Homo sapiens: one gene and its partners. The protein of the gene in region 2 purifies or fractionates together with the protein of the main gene of each other region. This does not show direct contact. Each region holds a gene or a part of one and is shown on either strand. Other genes may lie near its edges.

Region 1 (3,658 bases), on a different chromosome or scaffold from region 2:
TAACATCATCAGCAGGACCCACCCAGACAAAAGACATAGTATTTCATACTAACGTACAAGTTATCAACTTATTTGGAACAAAGCTTTAACATAACTCATGTTCATATAGACTAGATATTTAAGTATGCAAAAACAAAATAGAAGAAAACAGAAGTTAGCATTTTATAGCACGGAGGGAAGAACAGCCATGCTTTGTAAGACATACAGGTCCATTCAAACGAATAACTTTAAAAATTAAAGCAAATTATAAATTAGAGGGAAACTGGCCAGGCATGGTAGCTCATGCCTGTCATCCCAGCACTTTGGGAGGCTGAGGCCGTCGGATCACAAGGTCAGGAGTTCAAGACCAGCCCGACCAACATGGTGAAACCCTGTCTCTACTAAAAATACAAAAATTAGCCAGGTGTGGTGGCGCACACCTGTAATCCCAGCTACTCAGGAGGCCAAGGCAGGAGAATCACTTGAACTGGGGAGGCGGAGGTTGCAGTGAGCCAAGATCACACCACTGCACTCCAGCCTGAGCAACAGAATGAGACTCCGTCTCAAAGAAAAAAAAAAATTAGAGGGAAATTGCAACAAGAAACAAAAGGGTGACAAGGATCAACAAAGAGAAAAAGTAAAAACACAAAAAAATGAAAAGGAGAAAATACAAATGACCAATGAACACATGAACTGTAAAATCACATTAATCAAAAAATGAGAATTAGAAAAGTGGTTAACATTTTCATTTACATTAGAATTAAAACATACATGCTCTGTCTAAAATGAAACAATACAGCAATATATAGTTAAGAGAAAAGGCTTCTGTTTCGGGTAGTAATGGACTAGTCTAAAGATTAACATTCTTATTGAAAACATCTAAAAAATCTAGACTAGTGATACTCAAATCTTCAAAAATGATATTAATAAAAACCATTATTGCTCACCACTGGGATGAGCTAGGGCACCAACTTGTCACTCTGAACACTGACAAATTAAAGGGAAAGAACAAATTATTTACACTGCTTTTCTTGTATCAATGGTACTTCAGGATAACCAAAATAGCTCTGGCTGATGAGGCAAAGTTGTTCCTTAAAGAATTCCAGCTAATAAACACAGGAGGAATGGCAAGTCAGATCAAAACTTCCTTATGGAGGAATCCTGCTGAAATCACGTGAATCCCAAGATTTTAATGTTAGCATTGCTATGAGTGGGTGAAACACCCACACATCACGTGCCTCCCAGTGTAATGCCATATGAAGTATCAGTACTACCTACAAAGCATTCTTTGCCTCCTGACCCCAAAGAAGTTGAACCTAAATCAAATCAAGCCTTTAAAGCTAACTTTTAGTTTACAGAATACATACGGAGATAAAACAAATTAAGTAACACCAAAAAAGAGCACAAACAAATCCATAATGTGGAATATTAAAGACCTAGTTGATTTCTTCAAGAGGTCAACTGCAGGAAAACTAAAGAGACTGGTGGAGGAGGAATTTGCTCAAATGCTTTAAATTGAAAATAATTAGGAAACAAAAAAAAAACAAATTTAATGTGAGGACTATGTCAGATCCTGATTTAAACAAACCAACTATAAAAAGATACTTTTAAACATTCAGAGAACTCAATATGGACAGGGACATTAGACAATATTAAAAATGCTTTATTTTAATGGTTTGATAATACATATTCAGGCTGAAGTATATGGGGTGAAATGACCTAAGACCTAGAATATGCCTTAAATACATTACAAAAACAAAAATGATCCTAGTGTGGTAAATTCCTATTAACTTGAATCTGGATGAGTACACTGGGGTTCATAACATGATTCTCTCTTTGTGTCTGAAGGTTTTCATAAGAAAATTTCTACTTTAAAATATCCTGGAATAGGCCGGGCGCGGTGGCTCAAACCTGTAATCCCAGCACTTTGGGAGGCTGAGGAGGGTGGATCACGAGGGCAGGAGATCGAGACCATCCTGGCTAACACGGTGAAACCCCGTCTCTACTAAAAGTACAAAAAAATTAGCCAGGCGTGGTGGCAGGCGCCTGTAGTCCCAACTACTCGGGAGGCTGAGGCAGGAGAATGGCGTGAACCCGGGAGGTGGAGCTGGCAGTAAGGTGAGATCGCGCCACTGCACTCCAGCCTGGGCGACAGAGCGAGACTCCGTCTTAAAAAAAAAAATTCCTGGAATAGACCAGTGGAAGAGAATAGAGGGCCCTTAGACAGGTCCACATATATATGGATGCAGAGCCTAGCAAACAAGAGAGGTGACATTACAAATTGGTGGGGAAAGAATAAACTATCCAATGAATGATATTAAGACAACTAGTTATCTCAACATGGAAACAGATAAAATCCACACCTTAACTTAGACAAAAATAAATTCCAGGAGAATTAAAGCAGTTGTACATTAGCCCAAAATTGTAAAAGAACACATAGGGAAATAATTTTGAGTGAGCATAAAGGGATTTCTGAAAAGGTACAAACAGTGGGCCAGGCACAGTGGTTCACAGCTGTAATCCCAGCACTCTGGGAGGCCAAGGTGGGCGGATTGCTTGAACTCAGGAGTTCAAGACCAGCCTGGGCAATGTGGTAAAACCCCATCTCTACAAAAAATGGAAAAAAAAAAAATAGCTGGGCATGGTGGTGCACACGTGTAGTCACAACCACTCAAGAGGCTGAGGTTGGACGATCCCCTGAGCCTGGGAAGCCGAGGCTGCAGTGAGCCGTGATCACACACTACTGCACTCTAGCTTGGGTGACTTTTGAGTGAGACTCTGTCTCAAAAGATGCAAATAGCACAAGTCATAAAGAAAAAGACCAGACAACATAAAAAGATCAACATCACTAGTTATCAGTGAAATTAATATAACTTATTCTCATCAGGTAGGCAAAAATGTTAAATTCTGAGCCCATCAAGTGTAGGCCTCTGTACAGAGAAATAGGTACCTTACACACTGCTGATATGACTGAAAAAAAGTCAAACATAAAGAAAGTAATTAATTTGGCATACTTTAGTAAACTTAAAAGATACTCATATTCCATGCAATTCCACCCTAGAGAAATAAAGCCATGAACATAAACTGACTGGGAAGATTCTATTTGTTTAACAGAGACAAAAATGACCTTATAGATTTTTATTAGGTTTCATATAACCATGACAGTCGTGTATTTTTTAATTCATTACTACTTTTTTATTTCTATGATGTCCCTTTTTTTTTTTTTTTTTTTTTTTGGTTTTTTGTTGTTATTGTTGTTGAGATGGAGTCTTGCTCTGTTGTGCAGGCTGGAGTGCAATGGCACGATCTCAGCTCACTGCAAGCTCCGCCGCCCGGGTTCACACCATTCTCCTGCCTCTGCCTCCCAAGCAGCTGGGACTACAGGCGTGTGCCACCACACCTGGCTAATTTTTGCATTTTTAGTAGAGACAGAGTTTCACCACGTTGGCCAGCTGGTCTCAAACTCCTGACCTCAGATGATCTCCCTGCCTTGGCCTCCCAAAGTGCTGGGATTAGAGGCGTGAGCCACCAGGCCTGGCCAATGTCCCACTTGTTAAATCATGTAATTATGCATCCTGTAGTTACTGAAAAACTATGTGCAAATGATTTTTTTAAGATCTATGTTCACCTAAACATATCTAATTATTCCATATAATCCCACATAAGTCTATTATTTTTT
Region 2 (2,972 bases):
AGTAAGAATAAGAAAAGTGGGCATTAACGTCCAACACTGATATTACAGGTTTTGCAGCTGGGATCTTTCTTTGCATTTGCAGTAGACAAACTCATGAGCTGATGACCAGTGATTTCTGCCACGGTGCCCACAGAAAGATCCACAGGGTCAGTGTAAATGACTTCTAAAATGACATCCTGGGCATGGTGGTAAACCAGCACCCCATCTTCTTCTGTACAGGTCAAAAATTTATTATCCTTAGAATTTAGTTGAGGAAGGCGCTGCTTACAAAATTCATCTCCTGGTGATCCCACAGGAGCAATAACAAGAATCACATAATGATAAGCAGTGTACATACAGTAGAAGTCCCCAAAGTATAAGTTAGTATTGGGGTTAAAAAGTTTTTCTGCGGCAATCTCAAACCTGTATCTTCCATAAGGTGAATCCTGGGGTGGCTTTCCAGTATTGAATTCAGTGCTGCAGCTGAAGAAGATGCCTTCTAATTTTCCACTGATAGGAGAGCCATGGCTACCACTGTTATCCTTGACAGATGGCTGCATAGCATTCCCATGATGTTCTCTGCAAGAGAAAACAAGTGGTCACTGCTTAATACAATAGTGGTAAACCCACTGATTTATATATTTGAATGGCCTAAAAGTCAAACATCTACTGTTAAAGGCCTGAATACCTCTCTTACTATCAGAATAAGGGGACAACATCTTTTGACATATTACCTATAGATGGCTGTATTCTAGCTTTGACCTTAAGGTAAGGATGAGCTGCTACAAGCCTTGGAGACTTTGTATTAAATTAACATAATAATGTAAATTTCCTGGCCAGAAAAATCAAACTGGAATTAGAAACCTTACAGGTAAAATCACACATACATTAAGTGCCAACTGGGTTTCAGAAGTGGCTTTCTGAAGAGAAAACTGAACTAAAGGTATTGGTTAAATATATTGAATGTTTCTTTAAAGCATGATAGATTTAGTCATAAAATGAGTGCTGTCCATTTATACTGGCACAAAAGCGTTGTGTTTTGTTTTGGCTTTTTTTTTTTTTTTTTTTTTTTTGAGACAGAGTCTCACTCTGTTGCCAGGCTGGAGAGCAGTGGCACGATCTTGGCTCACTGCAACCTCTGCCTCCCAGGTTCAAGCAATTCTCCTGCCTCAGCCTTCAGAGTGGCTGGGACTACAGGCATATGCCACCATGCCCAGCTAATTTTTGTACTTTTACTACAGACGGGGTTTCACCACGTTGGCCAGGATGGTTTGATCTCTTGACCTTGTGATCCGCCCACCTCGGCCTCCCAAAGTGCTGGGATTACAGGCATGAGCCACCACGCTCAGCCCTTGTTTTGGCTTTTTAACCCAAGGACAGTAATCAGGTTATTTCTCTGGCATTTTGCTTAAAACAGTGCTAGTTATTCCCACTTTACCTCACCCCCAAATCCATTCATTCTCCACCACAGTCCTCCACTGTGACCTGGGACTCTAGCATTCAGTTCCTTATCCCTTGGCCACTTCCATTTCAGTTCTACCAATGTGAGGCACCAGCATATATAGAGTAGGAGGAGGTAAAGCTTTGGGTATGTCTTCCTGTATTTCCTCCACGCTTTAGGGCATTGTGGTTCTGGCAGGGCTGCATTCTTCATAACTATGTATCTCTGACTACTGCTGCTGCTGGATGAATTCCTATTCCCTTTCATTCCCATGAAGAGTAAAACTTTTCAAGTCTTGCTAGTGCTAGTTCTTGGTTCCTTTAGCATCCCCTATTTGTTACCGTAACCCTGACTACACCTCTATGAAGGGGTAGTTTTGTTAAATTCTCTCCAGAATTCCCCAAGTGTGCTGCCTTCTTTTTTTTGTTGTTTGTTTTTTTTTGCTGGGTCCCTGACCAGCATGACTTGGGAAGCAAAGTTCAAGCTACTACTCAAGTAAGGGAAAGTTCCCCCAGTCAACATGCTTCTTAAAGAGTTTATGGGTCAGTGAAATGCCTGGATCTGCCTCTGAATTTAGCAGCAATGGGTCTCGAATTCTACCACCTGAAAACCACCTAGGGAGCTTATTAAAAATGCAAATTCAAGGAAAGACCAAAAAATTGTCACAGTTAAGAGAATGAGGAAACACAATAAATAAATGTGTGATATCCTGGATGTGACCCTATACTTTTACTTGTACTGTGCTTTTTTCTTTCTGATGTTCCAGGTTTCCTTCTTTTATTATTTCCTTCCTTCCTGTTTCAGAAACTTCCTTTAGGATAGATATGCTGTTGACAAATCCCCTTAGTTTTCCTTCATCTGAGCATATCTTAATTCCCTTTTATTATTGAAGGATATTTTCACCGGATATAGGATTCTCAGTTGACAGTGCTCGTTCAGCATTTGAAAATATTGTGTCACTTTCTTTTGCTAGGTAATTTCTGATGATGATGTCATTCAAATTGTTTTATTTTTCCTTATACATAAGGTGTCTTGTATCTCACCACTTTCAATGTTTTTTTTTTTTCCTTTGGCCTGCAGTTTTCAGTTTGTAATATATCTTGGCATGGATTTCTTTGGGTTTATCCCATTTAGGGTTTTCTCAGCTTGAATCTGTATGTTTATGTTGTTTGGCAAATTTGGGAACATTTCGGCTATTAATTCTATGAATACTTTTTCAGCCCCACCCTCTTTGTCTTTTCCTTCTTGACTTTAACAACATGAATATTAGATCTGCTATAGTCTCACATGTCCATAAGACTGATATATATTTTTCGGTGAGTTTTATCTCTGTTGTTCAATTTGCGTAATTTCTATTCTATCTTCAAGTTTACTGATTTTTTTCTCTTTGTCCTCTTGAATCTGCTGTGGAATCCATGGAGTCTATCCAGCTTTTGACTTTACTTACTGTGTTTTTATGTTCCAAAATTTTCATTTAATTCTTTGTATCTTCTATTTCTTTGCTGCTTCCGTTTTTATGTGTTTCAAGTGTGTTAGTATGTGCTTCTTGAAC
Region 3 (3,658 bases), on a different chromosome or scaffold from region 2:
ATAACACCACACATCTACAACCCATCTGATCTTTGACAAACCTGACAAAAACAAGCAATGCGGAAAGGATTCCCTATTTAATAAATGGTGTTGGGACAACTGGCTAGCCATATGCAGAAAACTGAAACTGGACCCCTTCCTTACACCTTATACAAAAATTAACTCAAGATGGATTAAAGACTGAAATGTAAGACCTAAAACCATAAAAACCCTAGAAGAAAACCTAGGCAATACCATTTAGGACATAGGCATAGGCAAAGACTTCATGACTAAATCACCAAAAGCAATTGCAACAAAGCCAAAATTGACAAATCAGATGTAATGAAACTAAAGAGCTTCTGCACAGCAAAAGAAACTATCATCAGAGAGAACAGGCAACCTACAGAATGGGAGAACATTTTTGCAATCTATCTATCTGACAAAGGGCTAATATCCAGAATCTACATGGAACTTAAACAAATTTACAAGAAAAAAACAAACAACCCATCATAAAGTGGGCGAAGGATATGAACAGACACTTTTCAAAAGAAGACATTTATATGGCCAACAAACATATGAAAAAAAGCCCATGATCACTGGTCATTAGAGAAATGCAAATCAAAACTACAATGAGATACCATGCCAGTTACAATGGCAATCATTAAAAAGGCAGGAAATAACAGATGCTGGAGAGAATATAGAGAGATAGAAACGCTTTTACACTGTTGGTGGGAGTGTAAATGAGTTCAACCATTGTGGAAGACAGTGTGGCGATTCCTCAAGGATCTAGAACCAGAAATACCATTTGACCCAGCAATCCCATTACTGAGTATATACCCAAAGGATTATAAATCATGCTACTATAAAGACACATGCACATGTATGTTTATTGCAGCACTATTCACAATAGCAAAGACTTGGAACCAACCCAAATGTCCATCAATGTTAGTTAGACTGGATAAAGAAAATGTGGCACATATACACCATGGAATACTATGCAGCCATAAAAAAGAGTGAGTTCATGTCCTTTGCAGGGTCATGGATGAAGCTGGAAACCAGAAAACCAAACACTGCATGTTCTCACTCATAAGTGGGAGTTGAAAAATGAGAACACATGGACAGAGGGTGGGGAACACCATACACTGGGGACCTGTCGTGGGGTCTGGGGCTAGGGGAGGAATATCACTAGAAGAAATACCTAATGTAGATGACGGGTTGATGGGTGCAGCAAACCACCATGGCAGGTGTATACTCATGTAACAAACCTGCACATTCTGCACATGTATCCCAGAACTTAAAGTTAAAAAAAAAAAAAAAAAAGAAATAATAGACTTTCTAAGATAAACTCAGAAACTTAAAACCTACAAAAGGAGGGGAAACCTTAGAAATGGTTACTCTTCATTGTGTTTAGTCCCTGAATTTGCTTAAACTCCATTTTTCAGTTATCTAATACATGTACCTTAATTGATCCAAGGGCCCCAATGGCTACTTCAGGTGGCATTATCACTGGTTTGGCAAAGGTACCACCAATCTATTTTTTAAAAAAAAAAAAAGGAGAGTATTAAAAGTTAAGATTTTTCAGGGAACAAATGCCAAGTGACTTTTCTATTTTTAATTAAGCATATGATCAGAAACCTTAAGTAATGGTTTATGTATTTCAACATTATTACTCACTGATCCAATGTTGGAAAGAGTAAATGTTCCTCCTGTAAGATCAGTGGTGCTGAGCTGACTCACAGAGCCCAATTTCTGGAGGCGGTTCAGTTCAGTGGCGATGTCAAATATAGAGCAGATCTGAACATTTTTCACATTAGGGACAATCAAACCCTGCTCAGTATCCATTGCTATCCCAATGTTATGAGAAGCCTAAAAAATAAAAAATTGTACAGTAGGGCTTTTAATGAATAAGCTAACAGCAAAGAAAGGATCAACCTTCACTGCCATCTAGAAACCACTACCAAAACTCATTTTTACCAGATTGGTAGTGATTTAAAAGAAATAATTTAAAAATAATTTTTAAAAGATTTTTTGGGCTAGGCGCAGTGGCTCATGCCTGTAATCCCAGCACTCTGGGAGGCCAAGGTGGCTGGATTACCTGAGGTCATGAGTTCAAGACCAGCCTGGCCAACATAGTGAAACCCCATCTTTACTAAAAATACAAAAATTAGCATGGTGGCACAGGCCTGTGATCCCAGCTACTCGGGAGGCTGAGGCACGAGAATCGCTTGAACCTGGGAGGTGGAGGTTGCAGTGGGCCGAGATTGTGCCACTGCACTCCAGCCTGGGAGACAGAGTGAGACTCTGTCCAAAAAAAGATGATAATTTTTTATTGATAAGAATGTAGGCAATAGGCTATTTCCCAACATCGTTAGTGGGAATGTAACTGGTACAGGTTGAGCATCCCTAGTCCAAATATCTGAAATCTGAAATGCTCCAACATCTGAAACTTCTGGGGGCTGAAATGACGTCATGTGATGTAGCCAATTTCCTTGAAAACTGATTTATCACCCTGAGTCAAGATCCATCTTCAGAATTCTGTATACTGACAAATATAGAAATGTAAAGATTTTATTTTCAATTTATTGGATGGATTAAGCACCTCAGCATTCCTTACTATGTGATAAAATACATATATAATAAAAAGTATATTCAATATTTTGTCCTTAAACATTATGCTGCATAGTTGTTGAAACAGTTCTCATTTTATAATATTTAATCATATCAGAGCCCATCAATAAAAAAAAAAGAGAAAAATGCAGCCATTGTTCTGGCAGGGCATAGTGGCTCATGCCTATAATCCCAACACTTTGGGAGACTGACACAGAAGGATTGCTTGAGGCCAGGAGTTTGAGACCAGCCTGGGCAACATAGCAAGACTCCATCTCTACAAAAAAATTTTTTTTAATTAGCTACAAAAATTTTTTTTTAAATTATGGCACATGCCTATAGTCTCAGCTACTTGGGAGGCTGAGGTGGGAGGATCATTTGACCTCAAGAGTTTTAGGTTACAATAAGCTATGATTATGCATGGGTGACAGAGCAAAACTCTGTGTCAAAAAAAGAAAAAAAAAAAACTTTGTGGCCGGGCACAGTGGCTCACGCCTGTAATCCCGGCACTTTGGGAGGCCGAGGCGGGCGGATCACGAGGTCAGGAGATGGAGACCATCCTGGCTAACACAGTGAAACCCCATCTGTACGAAAAATACAAAAAGAAATTAGCCAGGCGTAGTGGCAGCCTCCTGCAGTACCACCTACTCAGGAGGCTGAAGCAGGAGAATGGCATGAACCCAGGAGGCAGAGTTTGCAGTGAGCCGAGATCGCAGCACTGCACTCCAGCCTGGGCCACAGAGCAAGACTCTGTCTCCAAAACAAAAACAAAAAAAAACAAATCCAACTTTGTTTCATGCACAAAAATGTTAAAAATATTGTATAAAATTACCTTTAGGCTATGTGTATGAGGGGTAAATGAAACATAAGTGAATTTCATGTTTGCACTTGAGTCCTGTCCTCAAGATATCTCCTTTGTATATGCAAATATTCCATAATCCAAAAAAATCTTAAATCCAAAAACGCTTCTGGTCCCAAGCATTTCAGGTAACGGATACTTAAACTGTAGAGACTTTCTGGAGAACATATGACAACATGAACCAACATTTATAAAAATTCGTGTTAAGGAACT

What was found.
Region 1: the proteins of PHYHIPL (region 2) and SMCHD1 purify together in Homo sapiens (affinity purification with mass spectrometry; one large-scale study listed by BioGRID and IntAct). This does not show direct contact.
Region 3: the proteins of PHYHIPL (region 2) and DBT purify together in Homo sapiens (co-immunoprecipitation; one large-scale study listed by IntAct). This does not show direct contact.

The regions. Positions count from the first base shown.
Region 1 is NC_000018.10:2,662,225-2,665,882, reverse strand, and holds part of SMCHD1 (structural maintenance of chromosomes flexible hinge domain-containing protein 1), read right to left. Parts: intron 1-3,658. UniProt on the Homo sapiens protein: Non-canonical member of the structural maintenance of chromosomes (SMC) protein family that plays a key role in epigenetic silencing by regulating chromatin architecture.
Region 2 is NC_000010.11:59,242,643-59,245,614, reverse strand, and holds part of PHYHIPL (phytanoyl-CoA hydroxylase-interacting protein-like), read right to left. Parts: intron 559-2,972; coding exon 24-558; 3' UTR 1-23. UniProt on the Homo sapiens protein: May play a role in the development of the central system.
Region 3 is NC_000001.11:100,204,792-100,208,449, forward strand, and holds part of DBT (lipoamide acyltransferase component of branched-chain alpha-keto acid dehydrogenase complex, mitochondrial isoform 1 precursor), read right to left. Parts: intron 1,846-3,658; coding exon 1,654-1,845; intron 1,511-1,653; coding exon 1,439-1,510; intron 1-1,438. UniProt on the Homo sapiens protein: The branched-chain alpha-keto dehydrogenase complex catalyzes the overall conversion of alpha-keto acids to acyl-CoA and CO(2).